Homo sapiens: one gene and its partners. The protein of the gene in region 3 purifies or fractionates together with the protein of the main gene of each other region. This does not show direct contact. Each region holds a gene or a part of one and is shown on either strand. Other genes may lie near its edges.

Evidence for each region.
Region 1: the proteins of AMZ1 (region 3) and SUSD5 purify together in Homo sapiens (affinity purification with mass spectrometry; 2 studies listed by BioGRID and IntAct, with this or other methods). This does not show direct contact.
Region 2: the proteins of AMZ1 (region 3) and CYFIP2 purify together in Homo sapiens (affinity purification with mass spectrometry; 2 studies listed by BioGRID and IntAct, with this or other methods). This does not show direct contact.
Region 4: the proteins of AMZ1 (region 3) and NHSL1 purify together in Homo sapiens (affinity purification with mass spectrometry; 2 studies listed by BioGRID and IntAct, with this or other methods). This does not show direct contact.

Annotation. Positions count from the first base shown.
Region 1 is NC_000003.12:33,152,787-33,159,810, forward strand, and holds part of SUSD5 (sushi domain-containing protein 5 precursor), read right to left. Parts: intron 1,248-7,024; coding exon 1-1,247.
Region 2 is NC_000005.10:157,388,114-157,395,137, reverse strand, and holds part of CYFIP2 (cytoplasmic FMR1-interacting protein 2), read right to left. Parts: intron 5,950-7,024; coding exon 5,711-5,949; intron 4,618-5,710; coding exon 4,470-4,617; intron 2,306-4,469; coding exon 2,138-2,305; 3' UTR 1-2,137. UniProt on the Homo sapiens protein: Involved in T-cell adhesion and p53/TP53-dependent induction of apoptosis. Does not bind RNA. As component of the WAVE1 complex, required for BDNF-NTRK2 endocytic trafficking and signaling from early endosomes.
Region 3 is NC_000007.14:2,683,439-2,691,217, reverse strand, and holds the start of AMZ1 (archaemetzincin-1), read right to left. Parts: upstream 3,017-7,779; 5' UTR 2,922-3,016; intron 1-2,921. UniProt on the Homo sapiens protein: Probable zinc metalloprotease.
Region 4 is NC_000006.12:138,426,472-138,433,495, forward strand, and holds part of NHSL1 (NHS-like protein 1), read right to left. Parts: coding exon 3,922-7,024; intron 3,373-3,921; coding exon 3,240-3,372; intron 1-3,239.

The DNA of each region.
Region 1 (7,024 bases), on a different chromosome or scaffold from region 3:
CCGCTGGCCAACATTCAGCTTGTACACAGAGCTCTTGTGCTGGCACTTGCGGTAGCCCCACACCATCCCCACACCTGCCAGGAGCAGCAGTAGGCACAGGACGGTGACAATGGTGGCGATCACAGGGCCTCTGCTGAGGCCAGGACATCCGTCCCCCACACACGACTCCAAGGTGGGATGAAGCTCCTCACTTGCACCTGGCCCGGGGCCTTCCTGTCCAAAGAAGTCTTCAGACAGCAGGTATGGGAAGCTATCCTGGATCTCAGGAACAGTGGTTTCTACTGGAGGCTGGGTGGTTGCCATGATCGTTGAGGGGATGTGGTTAGGTGTCTGCTTGACAGTGTTCACTGTTAATATCTCCAGGGTGGAGCTGGTGAGCTCATAGGACAGGGTGGCCATGGGAGATTCCTCTGTGATGAATCTCCAGGGTAGAGTTGACTGGTACTTCGTCAAGTCACCATCCCCAATGCCCTCAGTCTCGGAAGCATTCACGGGTCTGAGCGCCAAAGCTTCCACATCTAGCATTTGAGATGGAAGAACTGAACTATGGGTCATGCCCTCGCTTGGTGTGAGGGTGCTACTCTTGGGCTTCTTAACTTCCACAAGAATGGGCTGATCAGGAGTAACTAGGACGTTTTCATCCAGCCCTACTGACCCATCCCCTCTGTCCCCATCTTCTTCCTCTTCTGCCTCTGTCTTCCTCCAAGCCCCCTCTGTCACAGGGTAGCCATCTAACCAGGACTCATCACTGCTGCTCACCACTGGATCTCCTGCCTTGCTGTCATTCTTGCCCACAAATGGCCCCGAGGGACCATCAGTGTTGCCGTAGATCACCTTGGTTTCAGGTTCACCTGGGACCAATTTTACACCACTGTGGTTGTCTCCAGCAGAAAACTGCTTTTTGGTGTCATCATCCACCTCCTTTTCCAACCCAGGCTTGTGGAAAGCCTCAGCAGGAAACCAGAACAAGTGCTTCTGGAGCAGCCGTGATCCTGGTGAATCTGCGGGGACACTGCTCCCAGCACCAGGCAAGCCTGTGGTTGGCACAAAGACTTTATCCCGGGCTATGTTTTCTCTCCCCACAGAAATGGAGACCAGACGGTCCTGTTTTGGAGCCTCCTCAGAGGAGTCTCCCTGACCCCTGTCCTCATCTGCCTCTGTCCGGGAATCCTCCATGAGCTCTCTGAATGACACAGATCTGTCATCAGGGAAGTTATCTTCATAGTCAATGTGTGCCTCAGCCTCATCTGGAAGAAAAGAGGGAAAAAACCTCATTAGCTCCAAAGGCACAGAGCCAGTATAGAACATAAGAAAAGGAAATTAAAAGCATAAAGGCTGGGACAGAATAAATAATACTGTTATTATTCACAGATGATATGACTGTGTATCATAGATAAACCCAAATAATCTACATATGAATATTACAAGTAACTAAAATTTAACATCTGAGCTTAGGCCGGGCATGGTGGCTCACACTTGTAATCCCAGCACTTTGGGAGGCCTAGGCAGGTGGATCACTTGAAGCCAGGAGTTCGAGACCAGCCTGGCCAACATGGCGAATGCCCATCTCTAATAAAATACAAAAAAATAGCCAGGCATGGTGGCATATGCCTGTAATCCCAGCTACTCAGGAGGATGAGACATGAGAATCGCTTGAACCCGGAAGGCGGACGTTGCAGTGAGCCAACATCGTACCACTGCACTCCAGCCTGGGTGACAGAGTGAGACTCAAAAACAACAACAACAAAAACAACAACTCAAAAACAACAACAACAAAAAACATGTGAGTTTATTAGGGATACTAGGTCTACAGTAAATATAAACATCAATTGTATTTCTAAATATTGTCAATAAACAGAAAATTAAAATTTAAAAGGATGCTATTTACAATAACATTAAAAAAACCAAACACATAGGAATAAATCTAACAAAAGATGTTCAAGACTTCTACATGGAATGATATAAGACATTGCTAAGCAAAATTAAAGAAGACTTAAATGAATGGAGGAATAGACCATGATCATGTAGTAGAAGGCTCAAGATCATTAAGTTGGCAATTCTGTCCAAATCGATCTATACAGATCTAATACAATTCCAATAAAAATCTCAGACATTAACTGAATGTTAAAGTTTATGGAAATGCAATGGATGGAAGTTTATGGAAATGCAATGTAAGAATAGACAAGGCGATATTGAAAAAGAAAAAGCCGGAAGACATATGCAAAACATTTCAAGATTTACTATAAAACTGCATTACCTTTTAAGGCTGTGGTATTGGCACAAGGACAGATAACTGGATTACATTAAAATGAAGATCCTCTGTTCATTAAAAGCTACCACAAAGAGAGTTAAAATGCAAGGCAGAGTTAGAGAAGCTATCTGCAACACATATGACCTCCAAAGGGCTTGTATCCAGAATTTAAAAAGGACTCCCACAAATCTATACTAAGTAGACAGACAAACCATAGAAAAATTGGCAAGATAGTTGACTTGGGACATCACCAGAAAGATATCAGATTAGTCATTAAACATGTGGAAAGATGCTCAACCTCACTAGTAAGAGAGAAATGTTAATTATAGTCATAATGAGATACCACTGCATAGCACCAGAATGGCTAAAATTAAACAGACCGACAATATCAAATGTTAACTAGGATATACAGCACTGTTAGTGGGAGTGTGAACTGGAACAACCACGATGGAAAACTGGGCATCTCTACTAAAATTGAACATATGGATGCTCCATGACACAGCAATTCCACTCCTAAATATATACACTTAACAGTAATGTGTGCATATGGGTACCAAAAGACACGCCTAAGAATGTTCATAATAGTAAAAAACTGGAAGCAATTCAAATGTCCATTAACTGGTACATCAGTTATGGTATACTCAATGCAAATCTGTACATCAATAAACATGAACCAACCACTGCTTCCCACAACAAAATAGATGAATTGCATGGCCATAATGTTGAGCCAGGCACAAAAGTGCACACTCTGTGTTGATTCTATTTATATAAAGTTTAAAAACAGGCAGAATTAATCTATGGATGTCGGAACTCAGGATGGTAGTTACACTTGGGTAGGAGAGAAGGGGTGATGACTGGGTATGGTACAAACAGGACTTTTAGGGTGCTGGCAATATTCGATTTCTTCACCTGTGTCAAGGCCTAAATATCAGTGTTTATTCTTGATAATTCATTGGTTTGTTGCCTTATGATTCGTATGTATTTTATAATTAAGTTCAAAAATGCATCTTTTTTTTTTTTTGAGAGAGAGTCTCGCTCTGTCTCCTAGGCTAGAGTGCAATGGTGCAATCTAGGCTCACTGCAACCTCCGCCTCCCGGGTTCAAGCGATTCTCCTGCCTCGGCCTCCTGAGTAGCTAGGATTACAGGTGCACACCACCACACCCAGCTAATTTTGGTATTTTCAGTAGAGACAGGGTTTCACCATGTTGGCCAGGCTGGTGTCAAATTCCTGACCTTGTGATCCGCCCATCTCGGCCTCCCAAAGTGCTGGGATTACAGGCATGAGTCACCGCGCCCGGCCCCCAAATGCATCTTTTAAAACACTGATTTGCTCTCTGTAAAACTTCCAAGTCATGAGATGATGCTGTAAAGTATTCTGAATTCAACTGAATAAGAAGCAATAGAGCCCCACAACTAGGAGACCAGAATGTAAGGACAGCCCGATGAGAGGGGAATCAACTGGTCAGGAAAGCTCAAGAAGCTGGTGTCCTCAGAAGACAGCAGCAGCCCTTTGACCTTCCCCTCTCTCAATGGTCTTTGAAAGCCAAGTCCTACTGGAAGATACACTTAAATTATTAAAACAGACTGCTTCTCCCACTTAACTTTCAACTTCGGAAGAACAAAATGCACAGAGCTCCAGAGCCAAGGTCTAGATGGAATGCTGAGGTGTCATGTGGTGCATTCCTGGGCTCTGAAACTAGATTAGTGGGTATCTGGCTTATTTCTAAAGGCTGTTAGAGAATAAGACTCTGTATCTTGCTTATTTAATGACTGACAGAGTTATAAATAAAAGTTAACAATCTTTTCTGATCTGCTCCTGACATGTAAGCCCATTCACTTTACATGTGTCCTCAGTCAGAAAAGGGAAACAGTGGATGAAGAGCAAACATCACTGACAAATATCAAATGCATGCGTGTTTTATGCTTAGAAAAGGACAGCCCAATCACACCCCATTGTGTCCTGTTCATAAAACCTCACACAAAAAACATATCAGATGGCTGGACCATTCTAATGAGCCTTGTAGAATTCACATACAGGCTCCCAGGGCTCAGTCAGGCCCTTCACATTCCCTGTTATATCCTCATTTCAAAACCTGCACTGACCCACTCCTTCATTCAACAGACCTCACTGAGTGCTGACTATGTGCTAGAGTTTGGGATCACTGGTGAACAGGATAAATACTCCCTCCCCCGTTGGAGCATATGGGACAGAATCTCATGGTCTTGCATCCTATAGGGTTGAACTTCAAAGATTTTGTGTGCATAAATTTTCACCCAACATTCTGAATGGGCGTTAGGTTTTGCATTGAAGTACTGTCCTTCCTTCAAAAAACAACAAAATGAAATGAATGCCACTATGACAGAACTTTTCACTACAATTTACCCAAAACATACAGACAAGTCACACTGAGATTTAAGAAAGTCATGACGTATATCTTTGACCTCAGGATAAGGTGGTTAGATTGCTTGTGCACATGTGTGTACTTACTGGCTGTGGAAGACAGACTGCAATAATGGCCACAAATCTCCACTTTTCCCTGCATCAAGTCCTTTTGCAATGTGACTTTGCACCTCTCTTCCTATGAAAAGATGGGGCCCATTTTTTCATCTCTAGAATCTGGGCTGACCTTGTCCCTTGTTTTGACCTACTGAACGCAATGAAAGTGTTGCATACCTTTGCTCTCTGCCTCGGAGCCCTGCCAGCTGCCATGTGAACAAACCTGGATGCTGAAGGATAAAAGACCCCATGAAGGAGAGGTAAACGTCCCAACTGAGGCCACCGTAGATTAGCCAGCTGTGGCTGACCACATTCACCTGAGTGAGCCCAGCCCAAACTGCTGACTCAAAGAACTGGAGCAGAATAAATTGTTGTTTCATGCCACTAAGTTTTTGGGGATGGTCTATTATGCAGAAAAAGCTAACTAACACACTAGCAATGAGCTGCTTGGGGAGCAGGCCCCAAGGCATTGTGTCCCTAAAGTAGAACAGTGCTTATCTACTATAGGTATTCTTATAGGTATTCTTGAGTGAGTGAAAGAATAAATGGTTCTGGAAGGAAAACAAGGAAAAGTCTGCAACAGCTCAGATCCCAAGCTTCTCTTCATTGCTACCTTAAAACTGTTCAGCACTGGGATCAGTTTCCAGGAGCACAGTCTCCCAAAACACAAGAGGACTATAGGCCCACTTCTAAATTACACGGAATAAATCACTTGTACCCATAGTCTCTCATAACACCCCGAAGACCCTCTGAAAAGACGCCATTGTTGAAGGACCAATTGAATACAAACACACACAGGTGTGCACCACATACGTGCACACAACACACACCCTCACACACTGGTGAGCAAATCGCTGCCACAGCCTGGCTGGTGAGAGCATCTCTTCTCATCCCAGCCTCTCCTTGGTGCCCACATCCCTATCAATTTCAAAGGGTAGCCTAGTAGAACTCCCTCCCCACTGCTAGTCGATTTCAAGCAGAATGGTGACCCCGCTCCATCAAAGCTTGCTCCTAATGCAAAGAAGCTTGGCATTCCACATGTCTGACCAGTCATTTTTGCCCCAAATCTGCCCCAACCAATTTGTTCTTAATTAAAGAAAAGAACATATTCTGCGGTACTGCAGAAGAAATTATCTTTGTGAAACAATACACCTTTGCCAGTTGTCTCCTAGAGGTTCTGCTGTTGAGGATGAATATCCCTGTTCTCAGCCAGAACCCGGCCCCCTTTCATGAGGGGTAAGGTAGGAAGCAGTAACTCTCCAAGATCATTTTTCCTCAAGAAGCTTCCACCCACTCGAAAGCATAGGCCATCACTTCATGCACCAGCTATACCTTAAGGCCTCTTTCCACACGTCATTTTACTAGGGAATATTTTTTGTTGCCTCATTGCAGCCCCAAGACATCGAACCGTGAAGAACCCCAGATTCTATTTTATTCCATGGTATTTTTGTCATTTCCCATTCTTGCTTGCACGAATCCGGAGAGTGCATTCATTTTCTTTCAGGTCATCAACTATAGCTCACTGACTGTTGGGAGTAAACAAGCTGTTTGTGCTGAACTCAGTCAGCATGATGAAAGGGAACAACATTTGCACAGAGCTTTGCCAAAGGCAGTCCTAGGTGATGGGAAAGCTGGCAGGCTGTCGGTGTCAAGGTGGGTGGTGAGTCGAAGTGCTTCCTCACTGTCCTCATGGACCACCATCTTGTCACCTCTGCAGATACCAAGACTGATACTGTCCACGGGAAAGCAGAATTCTACCCAAATAACCAACAGCTAAAAAGAAGTGTGACTGTAGGGATACTCAAAATCTTCCAGCACCTCAGAGTATCTGTGGCCCTGACAAGTCTCGCTGTAACCTCTGCTCCGGCTTCTTCCCTGTCTCTTATGCCCACACCCCATATTTCACTTCCATCTGCCCCAGTGCTCCCTGCCTTTTTGTTCTTGCTTCTGGCTGCCCGTCCCTCTGCTCTTCTTCCTCCTTCTTCTACCTCATCACTTATGTTCCAGACCACTAGAATATGTACTGGGGATACAGGCCAAAATTGCCTTATGAGCAGGGTGCATTACAGGCTACACTTGAAAATATCTAAGTGTTCCAGTTGAAACTGTATCGTATATTTTTCCCTCCCCCATACCTACCAAAATGGGGAAACACCACCAAACACACCCATACACACACACACACACACAAACACAAACATAAAACTGGGCTTACTGAATGTGAATTTCTAAAAATGAGGAAACTATACTAAACATCAGCAAAAACATTTTACCA
Region 2 (7,024 bases), on a different chromosome or scaffold from region 3:
GAAGGTAATGTGACTCGGCCCAGAGGGTCAAATTTAGGGATATGAATGTGGGGTGAGAGAGGTGGGTTATTGAAATAGAAATCTCATCAAATAGATTATTCAAATCTCCATGAAGTCGTGGTCAAGGATTTGGATGGAACTCTAGCCATCTATCAGCTACAGAGAGCCAGCTACCATCCTCAGACAGGACTAAAGATGTAGAAGGATCTGGAACTTTGACATTTTATATGTTTTGAAAGCATGTTCTGCCATCTGGGATAATGTGTCTCTTTTGCCTCTGGAACACATCTATGGTCATCAAGAAGGAAAAGTCAGAAACCAGAATAGAAGGTGGTACCTCCAGACAGGAGGATCTGCCAGTTACTACTTGGAACCTCCTCCCTTCTCTCTTCCCTGTATGATGTATTTTCTTTCATGGCTTAGTGGTAGCTCAAAGCTCAAGGTGACCAGAATGATTCCCTTACAGCAGTGGTTCCCAAACATTGATGTGCAACAGAACAACTTGGGTAGTTTGTAGAAAGGGCAGATTTCCTGGCCCTATTCCCAGAGATTCAGAATTAGTAGGTTTGAGGTGGGGCCCAGGAATCTGCACTCAAATGTGCTACTCTCAGGATCTGACCTAAGGGGCCTTTCATATGTGGCCCCCTTTCCTCACCGGAGGACATAAGTGCATCACACAAACCTCTTGCTGTGGGCACTTCCTTTGGGGTTAAAAATGGGACCATTTGATTAAGGCAACCATTGCTAACCATCTTACTTCCCTGGGCTGGAGAAATATCAAATGTCACATTTTATGTTCTTAAAATCTCAGGGCCACAGATTTCCTTTGACAATGACATGCTCTGTAACATGAAATTTATATCCTAAAGCCTTTTGTCCTTCCTTCTTACCACACTCGGTGGGAGATTCTGCAGAAGACTTTTGGTTCAGTCTAGAAAATGGAAGTAAATGTTACCCCTGGGAGAGAAGCCACACCCGAAAGTCTAACTTAAGGAATGTAAAGAGAACAGCAAGTTGAGAGTAAAAGCTAAAATGTTCCAAGAATCTTTCAGCTTCTAGGACAATGAAGGTTCTGATTCCCTAAAAGAGGACTCTTCTTTGGGGGCAGGGGGTGTATCTTGGTATTAAAAGCTCATTGACAATTACTATTCCTCCTCCTCACCTCTGTGTTTCCAAGACGTTTTGGGCTTCTGTGGAAATAACCCCTTAATATTTTCTTTCTTGTGGAAATGTTCCTTGATAAGCAATTCTGTGCCAAGACGTTGTCCCTAATTTGGTCACTGGCTAATGCTATAGGCAGTGCTATGACTGATTTGTTCAAAGCTGCTTCCCCTATGTGGCCCAATGCTAAGCCTTTCCTGAAGGAATAAGGGAACCATCTCACCATCAAGCAGCTGAGATGGCCTGAAAGCATCCTGTTTGGACTATGACATTTCTGGCTGTGTTCATACATACTGCTTCCCCACAGCAGGCCTGATCAGTCTCCTACCCCACCTGCATAGAGTGTGATACAGCTGTGAATGCTTTTTGGACCTCTCTCTAGGGCTTCCCTGAGAGAGGGGAGTTAGAATGGGGCTTTGGGAAGCCTATGTGGTAGAATCCCTGGTACCCAGAGTGGGAGAAGATGACACCCGGGGCACTGCAGGGAGGGAACCAGGAGAGATGAAGTAGTAAGCTGAGGCATGCCCTTCTGGCCAGGCTGGCGTCTCTGGGCATGGCCACATCTGTTCACAGTCTGAGACTTGAGTCCTGGGGTCACACAAGGGCACTGGGTAGGAGATGTCTATCTTGGGAGGAGGTCTTGGGAAGCAACCACAGATAGGTGGGATGATGGGATGGAGAAAGGGTGAAACTAGGAGTTCTTAATATAGTTGAGGGGGGAGAAAAGAAAAAGCACACACTGCCCTGTTTACTTTTTTTTTTTTTTTTTCATTTATGCTATGGAGAAACCAGCATGGAGATGTCATGGGAGAGCATGCACAGGCCCCGCCCTAGGGAGTGGTGATGTGTTTGGGGAGGTGCTTGTTTCCAGGTCCATCCCACACGTTGTCCAGTTGGATCCTATGGCAGGCTGGCTGTGGCTTTCTCTCTCCTGCTTCTCTTCCTCCTCCAGATAAGGGTCTGCAGGATCTTCTGCTTAGCAAGTGGTGGCCAAGGACTGGTGGATGGGTGGCTGGAAGCAGCGCACATGCTCCACAGTGGAACTGTCTGTCTCCACGGACTTCATGTATTTGTTCAGGATGGCAAAAACCTCATTGTTCAAGATCTGATACTTCCTGATCCGGTCGGCCATCTTCTTCAGGGGCTACAGAAGGAAGGGGATGTTCAAGTTAGGGCAGGACAAAGTGGGGGTGGAAAGAGGGAGTAACAGGAGAAGTCACTGAGGTCCAGGGTCCCCTGCATCAGTGATCATGTCACTTTCTTAAAGTCCTTTTATGGAATCCCCTGGATCTGGCAATCAAGTGTTAACTGGACCGTAAAAACCCTCTCCAAGTTTTAAAACGATCTACAGAGCTACAATAATCAACAACACTGTGGCACTGGTAAAAAGGTAGATGTACAGATGAATAAAACAGAATAGAGAGCCCAGAAATACACTATTACACATATGATCAAATGATTTTCAACAAGGGTGCCAAGACTGTTCAATGGGGGAAACAGCCTTTTCAACAAAAGGTGCTGGGAAATATGGATACCCACACAAAAAATAACAATGGACGCTTACCTTATACCATATACAAAAAATTAACTCAGAATGGATTAGAGACGTAACCATGAGATTAAACTGAAATTCTTAAAAGAGAATATAGGGGAAAAATTTTCATGATGTTGGATTTGGCAATAATATCTTGGGGTATGACATCAAAAGCAAAGGCAAAAAGTTGCACTACATCAAAATTGAAAACTTTCATGCATCAAAGGGACACCATGAGAATGAAAAGGCAACCGAAAAATAGAAAATAATCACAAATTATATCTGATAAGTAATATCTAGAATATGTAAAGAACTTCAACTCAACAAAAATGACTCAATTAAAAAAATGGACAAAGGACTTGAATAGACATTTTTCTAAAGAAGATATACAAATGGCCAATAACACATGAATATAGCACTCAGCAGTGACAGTCATTAGGGAAATTCAAATCAAAATCACAACAAGATAACTTTTTCACCCCTCAGGATGACTATTATTAAAGAATAAGTGCTGATGAGGATGTGGAGAAATTGGAACTCTTGTGTACTGCTGGTGGGAATGTAAAATTGTGCAGCCACTATGGAAAACAGAATGGCAGTTTCTAAAAAGTTAAACATAGAATTACCATACGATCCAGCAATTCCACGTCCAGGTATATACTCAAAAGAATGGAAAGCAGAAATTTGTAGAGTTATTTGTACACCCATGTTTCATGGTAGCCAAAATTAACCATTTTCAAAAATACCCAAAAGGTGACAGCAACCTGAGTGGACAAACACAACGTGGTCTATATACACAATGCAATATTATACAGCCATAAAAAGGATGGAAGTTTGGACACTACAACATGGATGAACCTTGAAGACATCCTAACTAAAATAAGCCAGTCACGAAAAGACAAATACTGTGTGATTCTATTTATATGAGGTACCTAGAGTAGTCAAATGCATAGAGAAAGTAGAATGATGGTTACCAGGGGCTGGGGAGAAAATGGAATTATTTTTTAATGGGCCCGGAGTTTCAGTTGGGGAAGATGAAAAATCTCTGGAGGTGGATGTTGGGAATGATTGTACAATACTTGTGTACTTCATGCCACTGAATCATATACTGAAAATTACCATTGAAACTATTTTATGTGTATTTTTTAAAAAAGCCCTTTGTGAGGTGGCTCTTACCTCTCTCTCCTCTCACTGGGTCCCTGAGACCCACCCTTCGATCCGCCTTCCTGCCTCAGTGCCTCTGCTGTCACTGTTGCTGTCTGGAGCATCCTACCCGCCCCATACCACCTTTGCTGCTTGGTTCTTTGCTGCGGGCCATTCTGGAGTCAGCCCAGACACAGCCTCCCTCTCCTGGGAAGCTTTCTCTGCCCTCAGCCTGGTTTAAGGGTCCTTCTCTCCCTTCCCATAGCAGCCTGGCTCACCCCACGCCAGTACCTATCCCATCCAGGTGCCCCGTACAACTCTGGTATTTGGTGAATATTTGTACAGGTGAGAAACTGGCATCAGCAGAGTCTGATTGGGACAGGGAAGATGTGCTCCCGGTCTGGAGCCCAGCCCTGCCCTTCGGGGTGAACTGATTCATGGCAGTAGGTGATGAGTGGGTGACTCACGACCTCACGACTTCCTCTAAGCAGGTCCCCAGCCTATAGTATCTTTGTACTTGCCGTGTGGGGAGCTGGCCTTCACAAGCAGCTCCTCCTTGTTTGCTTTTCTGGTAAAAGCCTGGTTGTCAGCCCAGCCCCACCTCCCAGGCCTTAGCCACCAGCCTGCTCACCACATTCTTAATGATTTCATCCTTCCCGTCCTGCCTCTGCACTTTTAGCAGGTGGTAACAGAAGTCGAACAGGTCAAAGCGACGCTGCTGGCCCAGCAGGACAATGATGGAGCAACCAGCCCAGTTCAAGCCATCGCCGAAACACTGCCTGGGAGCAGGGGGAGGAAGCAGCTGGAGTGAGAGGTCGGGGGAGGAGGGCAGGGAGGGAGGGAGCCTCATCTTGGGCCAGGAGTACAGCTACTAAGCAGGCCTGTCTTTGGGCCAAGTCTCTTAACCTATAAAATGGGTACAAAGGAAGCTGTGAGGGTGGGTTCATTAGTTGCAGGGATGGTAGTTATGTCATAAGTCCTTCCGGCCACAAATTACATTTGCATCACTAATGTAAAAAAAAAAAAAATCAGCTCTAAAGACGCTCTGAATTTGCAAGGAAAAACCCACCCAGCTGTTGAGATGTATGTGGCTGATTACTCCGTGCAGGTCAAAGGAGAATCTGTCTTGACTCTCTAAAGGAGCTAAAAGAACACCTAGCAGGTGAGGGGCCATTTCAAACCAGGAGGCCAACTGGCCAGAAGCAGGCTGAAAGGGAAGGGACAGGCCATGGTGGGCAGATGCTGCTGGGGTTGAGGCTGAGTCCTTTTGGTTCTGACAAAGCTCCAACTCTCAAGAGGCCTGGCCCCCAACTCTCAAGAGACCTAGGCAATTTGGATGGCAGTAGAGTCATCCTTTGGCTGTCTCTTTTGTCCTCAAGCAGCAGCCCCAACCCGGGCAGGTGTCCCCAGTTCCCCATCACTGTACTGGAAGCCTACAGGCTAGCGCTGCTCTGAAACAGCTTCATCAACACCACTTTCTCCAGGAAGCCTCCTCTCCCCACCACGCCTTTTTCCTAGAGCTCTTGGCTGCTGGAGGGGAGGCCTTGTCTGCCTTTCCACTCTGTCCTAGACATGTAGCTGGGTGAGGGCAGGAAGAACTAGCTCTGCTGTCTGCTCTAAGGACTCCTAAAGGCTCCTCATTTTCCAGTAGTACAGTGTAGTGGGGGTGAGGCAGGCAGTGAGGGTCTTACTATCAAACCCTTACTGGGCTCTTTCTTGCCAATGCAGTCAGCTCAACACACTCAACAAAGTAGTTGTTGGCCAACCACCCCCACCCCCTGCCCACGTTTCTGGCTGAACTCTGGCAGCCCCATGACTTGCAGGAGCACAGGCAGGTTGGGGGTAACCCTGCCTTCTCTGGGGGGTACTCACTCAGCTGTGAACTCGTTGGTTCCCACAGGGATGCAGTACACGAACTGCATGGCGCTCCACAGCCGGTGGAACTCCACACACTCATCGACGTGCATGACGCCATTGGTGGGCGGTGGGCCCCGCCAGATGGGGTCCTGCAGGTAGCTCCGAATGCGGGTCAGGATGACCTCGAACATGGACAGGCCACAGCACAGCCGCTCCTTGGTCAGGAGGTCACCCTCGCGAGCAATGGCGATTTGCTGGAAACAGAAGGGCACATACACCTTCTATCCACATCTTAGAGCCCATCTGCCACCTCCCACCACAGATTCCCGAACTCTGGAGCTGGCTGCACCTGAAATTGGTTCACCAGAACTGGTCTTGTTCAGAGCAGGGCACAAAATTGATGATCCTGAATGCAACAGCAGGGAAGTTTCATGGTAAGTCTTACTGGTGTTAAGTAAAATCCAGGCACCATCAGTAGCGGATTAATTTTTAAAATTATGATTTACCCACATAATGAATTCTGGATAGCCATTGAAAAGACTGACATGATACTACTAGTAGTACTACTGCTTCTACTATAATTACTACTAGCTTATGCTTTCTGAGTGTGGGTAATAAAGCAGGCCCTGTTCTAAGCACTTGATAGGTATTGAGTCCATTCCATCCCATGAGGTAGATGCCATTACTCTCCCCATTTTACAGACGAAGAAACTAAGGTTCAGAGAGGCAGCCAGTGAGTGTTAAAGCTCACACTTGACCCAGTAGTCTAGATCTATTGGTTAAGTTGTAAAGTAAATAGAACAAATTGCAGAAATGAATGTATACTACAATTCTACTTAAAAACATTGACAATGTACAATCACACAGATGAAAGTATGTGTGATGTGTGTGTGTAAAGCATATTTTAGAAGGACTAACATCAGTTGTGGGAACAGATGGGCTTGGAGTAGTGAGTGGGATTGTCACTCTTGACTTTAAATACTTCTGTACAGTTGAATGTGCTACAATGAGCATATGTTACTTTTAAAACTTGCCCATGATTTCAGATAATTATTTCCTCTAGAAGTGCTTCTTTGACAGTTACAAATGACCTCTATTAATAATGTAAACTGGCTTTTCATCTGGGTTCTGGCTACTGCATATCTAATAAGCAGCTGGCTAGACAGACTAGATGTCAAAACACATTACTACACATGTTATGAGTCAAAACATGTAGGGGTAGAGGTCCTGAAAGCTATCTGCAAAGTAAGGTAAATGTTAAAATCTGAGGTTAAAGTAAGGTCTCCAAATCTGTGAACAAAGCTAAAAAAGGCAGGCTTCTCACACTGA
Region 3 (7,779 bases):
CTGGTCAGAGGCTTCCCTGCCAGCAAACCCTCCTACTCCAGGCAAAGCATCAGGAAATGAGAAATGCTTTTTTTTTTTTTTTTTTTGCCTCTGTCACCCAGGCTGGAGTGCAGTGGCACAATCTCAGCTCACTGCAACCTCCTTCTCCTCCAGGGTTCAAGCGATTCTCATGCCTCAGCCTCCCTAGTAGCTGGGACTACAGACGCATGCCACCATGCCAGGCTAATTTTGTTATCTTTAGTAGAGACAGGGTTTCACCATGTTGGCCAGGCTAGTATCGAACTCCTGGCCTCAAGTGGTCTGCCTGCCTCGGCCTCCCAAAGCACTGGGATTTCAGAGGTGAGCCACCACACCCGGCTGAGAAATGCCTTCTTTTTACCAAAAGTTCACAAGCCCTACCACATTGGTTCCAGGTGTGACTTGGGCCCAAACTGCCAACCTCAGGCCCATCTAAGTTATTCAGGGAGGACCGAATGGGAGCAACAGGAAGGGCCACAGCGACAAGTTTTGCAGGGGACCAGAGCACACGCACAGAGGAGCCACGACCACAGAGGCCGTTTGCACACCCGCAAGCAGTGGCGGGCACGTGGGTAACTCAAGAGCATCTACATCGGAAACCCAGCCAGAGACACAACACCACCTTCAGCCAACCTGAGCCGCCCGGGAAGGAGTGGCCACGCCAGCTCCAGACTAGCCCGGCTGGAAGATCAACAGGATGTGAGAGGCAAGCTCTAAAAATAGCCACCTCCCGGGACAATCGCTTGAGTCCAGGAGTTTGAGACCAGCCTGGGGAAATATGGCAAAACCCCGTCTCTACAAAACATTTTAAAAATTAGCTGGGCATGGTTGTGCATGCCTGTGGTCCCAGCTACTAGGGAGGCTGAGATGGGAGGATTGCTTTCGCCCTGGAGGTCGAGGCTGTGGTGAGCTATGATTGCATCACTGCATTCCAGCCTGGAAGACAGAGCAAGACCCTGTCTGTCTGTCTGTCTGTCTCTCTCTCTCTCTCACACACACACAAAAACACAGCCACCTCCTAGTGCAGACTGGAGAATGGTGTGACAGGCTCCAAGCTAGGAATGAGAACGCTTAGCTCCCTCCATCCCTTAACACGGGTACAGCTCTCGGGCATCCAGGGCATGACGTCTGCCCACATACTATTTCCTCTCAAGAAGCCTTGTGGCCACATTCGTCTTCGTGGGTCATTCAGGAAAACCCCGGTCCCCACTGTCAGCTGCCAGCTGAGTCCTTCCATCCTGCCAGGTCATTTCTGCACAAGACCACTCCTCACATAGAGCCAGAGCTGCATGTGAGCCCTGGGGGTACCCACGGGGAGGGAGCCGCCTTAGTGGGGGTCAGCTTCGCAGCACCCTCTGGCACTCACCAACCCATCCATGCTCCAAAAAGGAGACCCCCAGATGGAGGTTTCTCGCTGTCCTTTGGACCCTGTCACAGTGTGTCCCCCTCCTCTGCTAACTGCAGTCATGACAGCAGCCAACAGGTCTCATGCCTGCGTCCTCCAAGCCACACACGGAGCCGCAGGTGCCACTGCGGTGTTTCAGGTGGGGAAACTGAGGCTCAGACGTTAAGTGACTTGGCCCTGGCGACACAGCTGGGGGCCAGCGGGGCCTGGTTTCAAAGCCACGCTTCACACTGGAACCCCAGCTGCTCCTGGAGCAGGGATGTTCTGACGGGGACAGGGGGTAGGACGTCTCCTCTCCCAGAGCACCCGAGTTCCAGCCCTGCTGCTATTAATACCATGGGTAAACTCAGACGCTTCTCCTTCCTCCTCCCCTTGCCTTTTTTTGTCCAAAGACTGGAAAAGAGCACGTCCGCATCCCCCCCCCAGGGAGGTTCTGCCGCTCTAAGCAACAAGGGCCGCCAGACTGGCCCAGTAACCAGGTATCCAAGGTCAGGCTGCCCTAAACCGCACAGCTCCGGGCACTCATGCTCCCCCATCTGACCACGCAGATGCCTGGCCTTTGGGCAAGAAACCATGCTCTGATTCTCGCTATTCTGAATGCGCTTTGCAAAACCTCCCAGCAGCTGCATCGAGCTATTCATTAGCTGACAGCGGAGACCTTCAGGCAGAACCAGACGGACGGATGGTTTTGGGGGTTTCTCACCTCTCAGTTTCCATTCGCTAGGAGGGAAAACCGGGGGCTTAGACCGCAGGGGTAGTGGCCTCCGGGCCAGACTCTTGGCTTCCTGTTCTCTCTCCTCACCTGCGAACCCCAAACTCCTCTGCCAAGTGTTTCCCTCCCGTGATGGGGGCAGAAAGGACCCAGGTCCCTGCCCTCCCCTGTCCTTTGTAAAGTTTGCCATTTCTCTGTCACCCCTCCCTTGCTTTTCTGGTTTTGAGACCTGTCTTACATCCCTGCAGGGATCATATCCACAGCCTTCTCCCTCAGTCTCCTGGGGGAGGAAGCCTTCTCCCTCCCCGGCTCATACACAGGCTGCGGGGAGCCCTGGGCACGACGAGATTCTCGGCGCCCTGGAGGTTCCCCGGGGACGTCCCGCACCCACCTGGCTCGCCCCAGCCCGGAAACGCCTTCTTTCGGGCGCTTGGCCCTGGATTCCCGACCCGTCCCCAGTTTGCTCCCATCGGGAAGCGCGCAGGTCGCCCTGGCCTGGGAGAGGATGGCGGGGAGGGGGCGCGTGGCCCTTCCCTGGCCCGGCCTTCCCTCTGCAGGACCTGCCGGGGCTGTGCGGACCCCGGCGCGGCGCTGCACCAAACCCTCGCCAAGTGCGCCCTTCGCGTCTCCGCGGTCCCCGCGCGCCCGTAGCCGCCGCCGCCCGGGCGCCCTCGGGACTTGGTGCGCGGGCCGGGCTGGACCCGGAGCTGCCCCTACCCACCCGCCCCGGCACGGAGGTCCCTCTCGGTCCCTGCGCCCCCGAGTCTTCCCCGCGCGCCCCCCTACCTCGCAGTCCCGCGCCCGCCGGAGCCGGCAGAGGCCGCGCCGGGCACCGAGCCCCGGGCAGCAGCGTGGGCAGCTCGGCCTGGGCCGGGAGGATCGGGAGGTCCCGGTGACGTCGGCGCGCGGGGCAGGGACCGAGGCGGGCGGGACTGGGGCCGGTGTGGGGCCGCGGGCAGGACAGGAGGGCCACACCCCTCCCGGCGCTCAGCGTCCTGCCCCACTCCCTCCAGCTGCCCGCGGTGGAGCTCACGTGGGACCCTCCAGCCTCCCAGAAACACCCGGGCAGGGGGGCCCCAGAGCCTAAAGCCAAACAGGTGAGGGAGGTCAGTCAGCCCGGGCCAGTTCGTGCCTCCCCAGGTGAGAGGAGTAAACCCGGCTACTCTGCAAGGCGCCAGGTGAAGAGGTGAACCAGGCCACCAGTTAAGGCCCCAGGTGAGAGGGGTGAACCAGCGCCACGAGGTGAGGAAGGGGAACCAGGCCACCAGGAGAGGCCCCAGGTGAGAGGGGTGAACCAGGCTATCAGGCAAGGCGCCAGGTGAGGGGGTGAACGAGGCCACCAGGTGAGGAGGTGAACCAGGCTTATCAGCGAAGCCCCAGGTGAGAGGGGTGAACCAGGCCCCTAGGTTAGCCCTACAGTCAGTGGCCCTGAGGACGGGCGCCCTGCCCTACCCTGGCCAGCTGTGAGTGCAGCCCTGGCCCTGTGCCAGCCACCAGGAGATGGAAAGGACTCTAAGTGCGGAAGGATGCCGTGAAGGCCGGCATGACGGCTCCAGACAGAGCCCAGAGGCCTTTTCCATAAACTGCCCTTTTCCTCTCTGCAAACCCTCCCAGCACCAGCTTCCCTCGGGCAGCCTCCCACCAGCTCTGCTTCACCGTGCAGAAATGCCCCCCACGCCCTCAGCAGCGCCCCACAGATGGCTGAGGGATTCGTCACCATCGTCCCACACCAGTGCAAAGAATTTTTTTTTTTTTTTAGATGGAGTCTCGCTCTGTCGCCCAGGCTGGAGTGTAATGGTGCAATCTGGGCTCACTGCAACCTCCACCTCCGGGGTTCAAGTCATTCTTCTGCCTCAGCCGCCTGAGTAGTGGGGATTATAGGTACCCATCATTGTGTCCAGCTAATTTTTGTATTTTTAATAGAGATGGGGTTTCACCTTCTTGGCCAGGCTGGTATCAAACTCTTGACCTCATGATACACCCGCCTCAGCCTCTCAAAGTGCTGGGAGTACAGGCGTGAGCCACCACACCCAGCCTCAAAGAATTTTTTTAAGCCTTAAGAAATAACACGGCTGGGCGTGGTGGCTCATGCCTGTAATCCCAGCACTTTGGGAGGCTGAGGCAGACAGATCACAAGGTCAGGAGTTCAAGACCGGCCTGGCCAGTATGGTCAAACCCCGTCTCTATTAAAAATAAAAAAATTAGCTGGGCGTGGTGGCTGGTGCCTATAGTCCCAGCTACTCGGGAGGCTGAAGCAGGAGAATCACTTGAACCCGGGAGGCGGAGGTTGCAGTGAGCCGAGATTATGCCACTGCACTCCAGCCTGGGTGACAAAGCAAGACTTTGTTTCAAAAAAAAAAGAGAGAGAGAGAAAAACAACACAACACTAGGTGTCCGGTGTGCAAAATTTGGAAAATTATGAAAAATAAAAACAAAAAGAAGACCCCATAAGCCAACTGTGTAGAGGTAACCTCTCTCACCTTCTTGTCAGACATCCTTCTGATCGCCTTCTCCTCCACATTGAAATGTATTTTTAAAAAGTTTTTTTTGAGACAGGATCTTGCTCTATTGCCCAAGCTAGAATGCACTGGTATAAACGCGAGTCACTGTAGCCTCGACCTCCTAGACTCCAGCAATCCTCCTCCCTCAGCCTCCTGAGTAGCTGAGACTACAGGTACGTGCCATCACACCTGGCTAATTTTGAAACTTTTATGTAGAGATGGGATCTCGCTATGTTGCTCAAGCTGGTCTCAAACTCCTGGGCTCAAACAACCCTCCCAGCTCGGCCTCCCAAAATGTTGAGATCACAGGTATGAGCCACCGTGCCCAGCCTAAATACATATTTTAAGGGATTCACGTCACATACTGCGTTCTGCAGGCGGCCCGTGACTTCACACTCATCAATAGCCAAAAGTCCGTCTCCACACCCTGATGGTCTGCGCTGGACTCCGTGTCATGGATCTGTCACCTGCTTTGGGATATTTTGGTTTCTCCTGGTGTCTCACTAGCATATATCACTGTGATAGACGATCTTGTTTCCACAGATCTTTGTACAGGTATCTGGTCCCCCTCACCTTGGGATAAATTCCTACAAATAGATTGTGACTCAGAAAGCTGCACTTCTTCACACGTGTTGCCGCAGGGATTTTCCAGGTTATTTCTGTTGGGGATGGAGAACCCAGAACCTGAGAAAAGATGAATGTTCTTTTTTTTTTTTTTTTTTTTTTCTTGAGACGGAGTCTCGCTCTGTCACTCAGGCTGGAGTGCAGTGGCGTGATCTCGGCTCACTGCAAGCTCCACCTCCCGGGTTCACACCATTCTCCTGCCTCAGCCTCCTAAGTAGCTGGGACTACAGGCGCCTGCCATCATGCCTAGCTAATTTTTGTGTTTTTAGTAGAGATGGGGTTTCACCATGTTGGCCAGGATGGTCTCGATCTCCTGACCTCGTGATCCGCCTGCCACGGCCTCCCAAAGTGCTGGGATTACAGGCATGAGCCACCGCACCCGGCCTTTTTTTTTTTTTGAGACGGAGTCTCACTCTGTTGCCCAGAGCTGGAGTACAAGTGGCGCGATCTCGGCTCACTGCAAACTCCACTTCCTGGGTTCAAGCGATTCTCCTGCCTCAGCCACCCAAGTAGCTGCGATTACAGGTGCCCGTCACCTCGCCCGGCTAATTTTTGTATTTTTAGGAAGGACAGGGCTTCACCCTGTTGGCCAGGCTGGTCTCGAACTCCTGACTTCAAGTGATCCACCCGCCTTGGCCTCCCAAATTGCTGGGATTACAGGCGTGAGCCACCGAGCCTGGCCTGAATGTTCTGTCCTAAAGCTGCTTATTACAAAGAAGTTGTGGAATATCCTCCCCCCAACCCCCACGCCCCTCCCTGAATAGCCACCGGAAAGGAAATTATGCATCGAGGCCGGGCGCGGCGGCTCAACCTGTAATCCCAGCACTTTGGGAGGCCGAGGCGGGCGGATCACGAGGTCAGAAGATCAAGACCATCCTGGCTAACACAGTGAAACTCCATCTTTACTAAAGATACAAAAAATTAGCCGGGCGTGGTGGCGGGCGCCTGTAGTCCCAGCTACTCAGGAGGCTGAGGCAGGAGAATGGCGTGAACCTGGGAGGCGGAGCTTGCAGTGAGCTGAGATCGCGCCACTGCACTCCAGCCTGGGCGACAGAGACTCCGTCTCAAAAAAAAAAAAAAAAAAAGCAATTATGTGTCAAGCCCAGAGTGGCAGTTCCTCCTCTGTCTGTTGGGTCAGCCCGGGAGACTGGAAGCCCAGATGAGTAGGGCCCCTCCTGGGTGCCCCAAGTTGGGTGGCGCCATGCCCAGTGCCAGGACCCCCGAAACACAGAGGCAGCCTGCTGATGACCTGGCCCCTGCCAGCCAAGGCTTCACTCAGCCAACGCCCTGTCCACACTGCACCCGGGACACGCTGGTCTCCCACCGGCAGACTGCACACCCCTTTCTGGTTGAAGCTACCTCGTCAGAGTCTATTCTAGAAAGAGGCCGTGATATGGGGACCCCTGTCCTTTCAGTGATGAACAAAGGGGGCCGCCCCCAACTTTGACCCCATCACCATCCTCTGACCCAGGCCGACTTGGGGTTAAAAGAGAACTGTGTGGCCTGGGGAAGCTGCTTCACCTTGCCCTGCCTCAGTTTCCCCAGGGTGGGTTACATAGCGGCTCCCAAAAATGTGCCTACTTGCACCATCAGAATGGGACCTTATTTGGAAACCGAGTCGTTGCAGATATGGTTAAAGTAAGGATCTCAAGATGAGGTCATCCTGGGTCAGAGTCAGGGTGGGCCCTAAATCCAATGCAAGTGACTTTGTAAGAGACAGAAAGAGGTTCCTCATTGGAGGAACAAGACAATGTAAAAAATAATGACAATTTTTTTTTTTGAGATGGAGTCTCGCTCTGTCACCCGGGCTGGAGTGCAGTGGCGTGATCTTGGCTCACTGCAACCTCTGCCTCCCAGGTTCAAGCGATTCTCCTGCTTCAGCCTCCTGAGTAGCTGGGATTATAGGCGCGTGCCACCAAGCCCAGCTAATTTTTGTATTTTTAGTAGAGATGGGGTTTCACTGTGTTGGCCAGGCTGGTCTTAAACTCCTGACCTCAAGTGATCCACCCGCCTCGGCCTCCCAAAGTGCTGGGATTATAGGCATGAGCCACTACACCCAGCCAACAATTTTTTAAAAAGAGAGAGAAAGAGGCTGGGTGAGGTGGCTCACGCCTGTAATCTCCAACACTTTGGGAAGCCGAGGTGGGAGGATCACTTGAGCCCAGGAGTTGGAGACCAGCCTGGGCAGCATCTCTACAAAATATTGTAAAAAACAGACAGAGCTGGGCGCGGTGGCTCGCGTCTCTAATCCCAGCACTTTGGGAGGCCAAGGCAGGCGGATCACGAGGTCAGGAGATCGAGACCATCCTGGCTAACACGGTGAAACCCCGTCTCTATTAAAAATATAAAAAAATTAGCCAGGCGTGGTGGCAGGCACCTGTAGTCCCAGCTACTCGGGAGTCTGAGGCAGGAGAATGGTGTGAACCTGGGAGGCGGAGCTTGCAGTGAGCCGAGATCGTGCCACTGCACTCCAGCCTGGGTGACAGAGCCAGACTCTGTCTCAAAAAAAACAAAAACAA
Region 4 (7,024 bases), on a different chromosome or scaffold from region 3:
TCCTATCACCAAAAGGGGAATAACAGTATATAGGTCACAGTTTGTCAGTACTCATGAATGCAGTGATAGCCATAATTGGTCAGGCATAGAGCAGGTGCTTAACAAACCTTTGAATGTCACATAGAAAATGGATTTAGTTTTTACGTGGCTTACACAGCAAGACAGAGGGCAGCATGGGCCCATGCTGGCTGCCCTGGGCTTGGTGTTCCTGGCGTCATCTCCATTCTTCTGGTCAAAAAGATGCCACTAAAGCAGAGGCTGGGAAATGGTAAGGACCCAATACAGGGTCTGAAGGGTGGCCAGAGTGGACAGGGCACCAGACTCTTTGGGACTGCAGAACATGGCCTACCATACAGGTTTCATGGTCCCACTCAGTAGTTAACAAGAGCAGTCTGCCCTGATAAGAGTTAGGACCGGCTGACAAAACTACAGACATCCTAACATCTCGAAACTGTAGAGCTAGAAAAGACGTTAGAAATGGTCTAGTCCAACCACTTTGGGTTTCAGAAAAGGTAACTGAGAAAAGGTAACTTGTTAGTATGACAACTAGGACTTGAGCTTATAGCACATGGCCTCACCACTTACATGGTCTACTCCCCAAAGCAGCTCTGCTCATTTCATTCTTTTAGGTATTGGCTGGTGACTTAATTTGTAATTTAGATTTTAAACGGTGAGAGTATGCTGAGATCCATTAAACAAGTCACAACTAAACTTGAGTAAAACTATGACCTTTAATTGTAGACATAGAATTAAGAAAGAAGATGGGGTGACCAGCCTGAGCAACATGGTGAAACCATGTCTGTACTACAAATACGAAAATTAGCCGGGCATGGTGGCACACGCCTATAATCCCAGCTACTTGGGATGCTGAGGCAGGAGAATCATTCGAATCTGGGAGGCAGAGGTTGCAGTGATCCAAGATCGCGCCACTGCACTCCAGCCTGGGTGACAGAGTGAGTGAGACTCTGTATCAAAAAGAAAAAAAAAAAAAGGAAGAAAGATGGGATTTTATGAAAGCACTGTCATCTCTCAAGAGCAGGTGCCCACTAAAATAATTAAATCTAAATGTACAAATTCTTTGCATATACATACACAACACACACACACGAATATGTATTTTTAATGAAGAGAGCTATAAAAAGTGCTTAAACAGTTAACACTGATTTTAAAACTAATTACTTCAATAAATATAAAAACTTCACACCTCAACTGGTGTTCTACATTTTCCATCTGGCTTTAAATCTGAAGCGAATTAATTTGCATTATAAAATTTGGAAGCTGTGTTTCAACTTAGATATTCTTTATTTTAAATTATGAGCTTAAGCGCTGAAGGACATAAAAATAAAGCCCTAAAAAAGCACAGACAGTAGATGGATTTTTACTATGTCTGCTAATTTATTCTCAACGCTACAACAGAAATTAGCATATGTCCTCACTCTCTCTCTGCAATCCATTCCTAAGGCCTATTTGGCTTTGACTTCTCTCATACGTGCACTGAGTAACACCAACTGACCGATTTCTACATCTGCAGTCGATGTAACGTCCTAGTAAGAGAAACAACACATTTTTCGATGCCTTAAGAAGGTTGCCAAAATATAGAAGAGGCCTTTGGCATATTTTTGGGAAAAAATATGCAGTAATTTGGACCCACAACAGTTGGGTTTCCTCACTGGAACCAAGTATCGAGTACACAGAACAACCAGGCTACGCAAATCTTCTCTGTGGATGGCTATTATAAATAGACAGATATGCCTGTATATTTAGCAACCCAGTGCATTCCATACTAAATGAAATACTCTGAGTCTTGGAAGAATCTTCTAATGGTTAAATACCAGTTGGTTTCATTTAATTCAGGAAATATTTATTGAGTGCTTCTTATGTGTCTAGCGTGGTTAAGAGTTAGAAACATCTATGGGAACTTCTAGAATTGCCACTGAAGTTTCAAAGGATGCATCATTTATCATTTCTCTGTTTTGAGAAATAATTGGACAACCAGCTACCTTTTCACTTCTAATGAGACTGAAGAAACCAGTCCATGTTAAAAGGGGCAGTCTTTAGGATCTATTATACCAACACTAGAGGAGCGACGTAAAGAGCGTAATTCTTGACAAGAACATTAATTCACCGGCTTCGTTCCCCCCACACCAAGTTAGATGTTAATGTGTTGCATGAAGAGTTTCAGGTAGGTACAGCACTATGTTTTTCATCTTATGCAATAGTCTTTTCAGGGAGAGTCCAAGAATTGGGAAAGCAGTGCTGACATAAGATCATTCACACACAGAATCAAATGATTCTACAGGATGCTTTGTTTCAGGAGGTTAAAAAAAAAGAAAGGATCTTCATTCAGGGCAAAATAAGGCCTTGGCAGCATAAGGACATTCATTAGAGTTACCTGGAAATACCGTGGTAGAGAAGTCTAGAAGGAAGCAAAAGGTTTATACAGCATTACGGCTTAACGTAGTTGCACATATACAGTCATCAGCTTTTACGATGACACTGTGTGGGAGTAGTCAGCTGTTTCCAATCAGAAAAGTGATGCAGTAAGTAAAACTTCAGTGCTAAATCATATTTACTCTTAAAGGTGACCACATATAAAAAGTGTAACAGTTCAGGCCATTACTTTGAAAATTTTACCCTTTTTGTTTGTTTTTAAACCCAACGATTTCTGATGCCAGTAGATGGCACTAGTGGTATATTAACAAGCATAAGTCATTCTTTTGCTCCCGCTTAAAGGGCCGTACTCTTTTATAGAAACACTTAAGCAGCCAAAGAAATTGCTCTGTATAACTGTGGTTTTTCTGTAAAATGAAAAAAATTAGAATAAACTAAAACATCTTTAGGAAGAGAGTCCCATGGAGCTAGTCTGTGCATCCTAAGTCCACAGAACATAGCATTCCTCCTCCTGACTGCACTGTCAGTCACTTTAATCCGACTCTTGCTAATATACTCTGTCTTATGACTGCCACACTGCGCTCCTTGCCAGGAAGAGCAGCGCCTACCAGAACGTATCACATTGAGCCACTGTCCCCAATGTCATAAAAATCAGTGAGACAAAGTAAAACAGAAATTGGAGCCAGAGGAAATAAAACTGTAGAAACCCACTAAAAAATCAACAGTAAAGTTAAGGAGTTATGATTGGGTGACAGAAGAAACCTCAAGGAAGAAAAGTAAATTGAGGTGCTGCTTGGAAAGAAGGAATTACACAGTAGATTAAAGTCAGAGGAAGGAGTTTGAAATACCTGTGAATAGCTGCAAAAAGGTCTTCTGTGGTCCTGGGTCGACTGGGGGTCATTACCTCATCATTCCCGTCTTCCTTGAGGAAGTCACAGGCCTCTGAGGATGAACCGGCTGCGTTGGTCTCCGGCACCCCAGCTACAGAAGAGCAGGCAGGCATACAAGACGCACAAGTGACTGGAATTTCAGTCCTCAGCCAAGCTTCTAAATATGCTGCTTCCCTGCCATTCCCGACAATGTGAGAACCACAGGGAGATGCCGTGGGTCTGTAGTTTGATAGTTTACAAAGAAGGGAGGAAATGACACTAGCCTGAGAGCCAGAGCTCATTCTTTGTTAAAGTATGGAACGCCCATGGCATCTCTCTTAAATTTTGTTGCAACGTTTCTTTGCGCGGCTCTTCGGAAGGGAGGTGTTACCCATTGCTATTTAATACCCAGCCTGCTGCAGATCATCTCCATCCCCCTATTTTCTGCCATGCCTTTAGGTCTAGATTTTAAAAATAATAACAAAATGCAAAGTTGGTAACTTAATCTGTGTTTTAACACAGGAAGCCTACATACTGCTAGCTTTAACAGGAATCTGATCTACCTGGGTTCTTTCCACGTGTGAGCATTCAACAACCCTATCTGGTTCAGCTGCATATGGGCAGAGGGCACAGGAGAGAGAAGCCAGGAAGCCAGACTCACCTGCTCCGTCCTGTTGAGATAGGCAGCTCTCCCCATCGCCCCCAGTATCCGCACTGTTCTCGGCTGGCTCCTCCTGCTTGGGGGCTGGTGAGACATCAGGCTGAACCATGGGGACATTGGCTTCCACTCTGCTGGGAGACATGGATCCTGCAGCTCCTCCCTCAAGAACCGAGGTGCCAGGGTGCGTGGCATGAGAGCCAGCTTGGGCTGCAGAACTCTCTTTTGCCTCCCTGCTGTGCACAGAGCCCTCCTCTCCCGTCGTGGGGCTGGGCACAGCTCGGAGGGCTTCGCTCACGTTCTCTGCGGGCTCCACTGCAAAATCTTTCTGCGGAGGTGGTACCACCAGGAACAGTTTGGGCTTCTTGGAAATGGGGGGTGGCTTCCTGCTGGGTGAAGAGTCTGGGAGTGGGGTGGTGCTGGGGCTGGGCCGAGCCTCTGCCTCCCCAGCGCTTGGAGCTCCAGGGCTGCGGCTCACAGGGCCACCACGCTCAGCCGCACTGCCATGGTCACCCTGACTCGAGCTCTTGGCAGGCGTCGGAAGCGAGCTTGTCACAGAGGCAGGCTGGCTTTCACTCTCCATTTCATTTGTGCTATTTCGGGATTTCAGGAAAGCAGATGGCTTTAAGTGGTACTGTGGAGCAACTGGAGTTCGTTGTTCCTGAGCTGTTCGTTCAGACAACTGTGCCGCCTCAGCGCCTGAGTTCTTTCTCACGGGCCTCAACTGCACCATCTGCAATGCTTCCGTGGTTATCAGGGGCATGGGGGGCCTGCTGGTCTCCTCCTTGGTAGAAGGCGGCCTCAAGGATCCCCGGGAGGATTCTGGCTGGCCAGAATTTGTGAAAGGCGGCCTGGTGTCTTTCATGAATTTGGGGTCAAGAGGTGGGGCAGGTGGGGGTTCCGAGGAAGGTAAGAGAGGTGGGGGCAATGGCAAGGACACAGGTGAATCTGGAAGAATGGGGCTCAGTGCAGGGCGGGGAGGAGAAAGGCACCAATCAGGTGGGGAGCAGAAAGGAATGAGAGCTTCTGGCGGCGGAGGGGGGAACACAGGAGAGTGAGGCAGAGGAGAGCCCTGGGAGCAATCTGTGACAGGAGGTGGGGGAGGAAGGAAAGGAGACCTGTCTGCAGGACAAGGGAATGGAGGAGAGGGAACAGGAGGAGGAGGAGGAGCCGGGGGAGAGCCCACGGCTGGATCCAGCTTCTTCATAGTGCCACTTCCTTCAGTAGAAGTACTAGAAGAAAGAGAAGTGGACGATGAGGAAATGGATACTGAAGATATCAGAGAGGACTTCCTTTCTGGTACCTTGGGCTTGGGCTTCCCCTTCCCGTTTGCTGGTGACACTGATTTTAAAAACACAGGCACAGGGGTGAGTGCTGTGGGTGTATTCGACTGGCTGGAATACCCACTGGATGGAGAAATGACTCTGTGTGACTTCTCTGGTGACATGATCTTTGGTTTGACTGAACCACCGGGCACTTGGGGCATTGTGGCTCTGGACCCTTCTTGGACATGGCGGACTGGCCCGTTCCCAGTGGGCACCCCACTGCTGGTTGAACAGCCCCCTGCCGGGTTCCCCGGATCTTCCTGCATGCCCGTGTAGTCAATGTAATAACCCCAGGGGTCCGTGTACTCTGACTTGACGCTGCTTGTGTCACTCTGCGATGGCGTGGCCCCGCACAGGGAGTAGACATTGGGGGTGGTGGCGGAAGTCATGCTGCTGCCAGCACTAACTGTGCTCTGGCTCCGGGAGCGGGGCAGCCAGGGCTCTTCCAAGTCACTGCAGGGGCTCTGGGAGGGCGAGCTGCCACTCTTGCCTGGGAGGCTCAGCTGCAGCGAGTGCTGGAGTGTGGCGATCAGGCTCTCGTTGAGCACCTGCCCGTTGCACTGGCTGCTCTTCTTGGGAATCCTGCGGAGGGAGTCTGTCCGGGAGGGTGGCAGGGGAGGCTTCTTTGCTTTCTTCAAAGAGATGTTTCTTGATAGGGATTTATCCTGGTAATTGGACCGGTCCCCTTGGTTTTTCTGAGCTCTTCCAACAAAAACATTGATCACGCTGTGCCTGGGGTTCCCAAAGCCATCACTGCTATTGCACAGATTCCCAGATCCATGTCCAGAGTCAGTGTGCACAGATGCACAGTAGCCATCGTGGTCCTCAGAATACAGCGACCCAGCATCCTCTTTGTTGGACGTTTGGTCCAAACTGCAGCTGCTCATGTTACTTGTGGGAGTGGAATAGCCAGGAGTTGCTAAATGCGGCTTCAGGGGGGATGCCCTTCCATTACCTGAGGATTTGTATTCCCAGGGCTCCGAGCTGCTGTGCCCTCCGCCCCCTGAATAACTAGATTCACTCTTGCCATCCACATCTTGGGGGTGGGCTGGGAAGGCCAGGTTGTTTCTACAATTATACGGCATAGCTTGGGACCCATTCTCCCTATTTGCTGGAGCATTTAGAGGGACGGCTGAGTCACAGAGGGACAACAGTGCGGGTTCACCAGGGGAATGAGGGTCTAAGTCCTGTGAAAGAATGGTGGCATGGCCCTCATTCCAGTGGCGACCGGGAGACTGAGGATCACCTTTCACAGCATGCCTGGAGATGAGGTGGTCTCTGGATTTTATCCTTGCATGTGATGAGCCAGAACTTTTACTTTCCCGCTGTCCCGCACTCTGAGCAGTGGGAATAGCGATGACCTCGGAAGAGGAAGACAGTGTGGCATTTGGGATGATGCTGGTGGAGTAGGTTGCATGAGGAGAAACCACACACGCTGGGCTCATTATATTTTCACTCTCGAAGTGTCTCAACTCCTGGGATTTGGGTCTCAAAAGTGTTCCAGTCCCTGAGGCACCTCCTAAATGGCCTAAGTTTTCATCTGCTTGTGGGTGACCTCTCTGGTAGAGGAAAGTGCCATTCATGTCTCCTGCAGGGCCGAGGGCACCCAGCCTCGGCTCAAGGGACTGAATGTTTGCCCTTGCTCCAGAACGCGGAAGACTATGGAAGCCAGCATCACTGTCAAGGCGGGAAGGGAATACGATCCCTGCAGAATCGCTCAGCACAGACATGTTGCCAGAGGAACCTGAGAAGTGGCCCATCTGGGCAGCAATGCCTTGCCC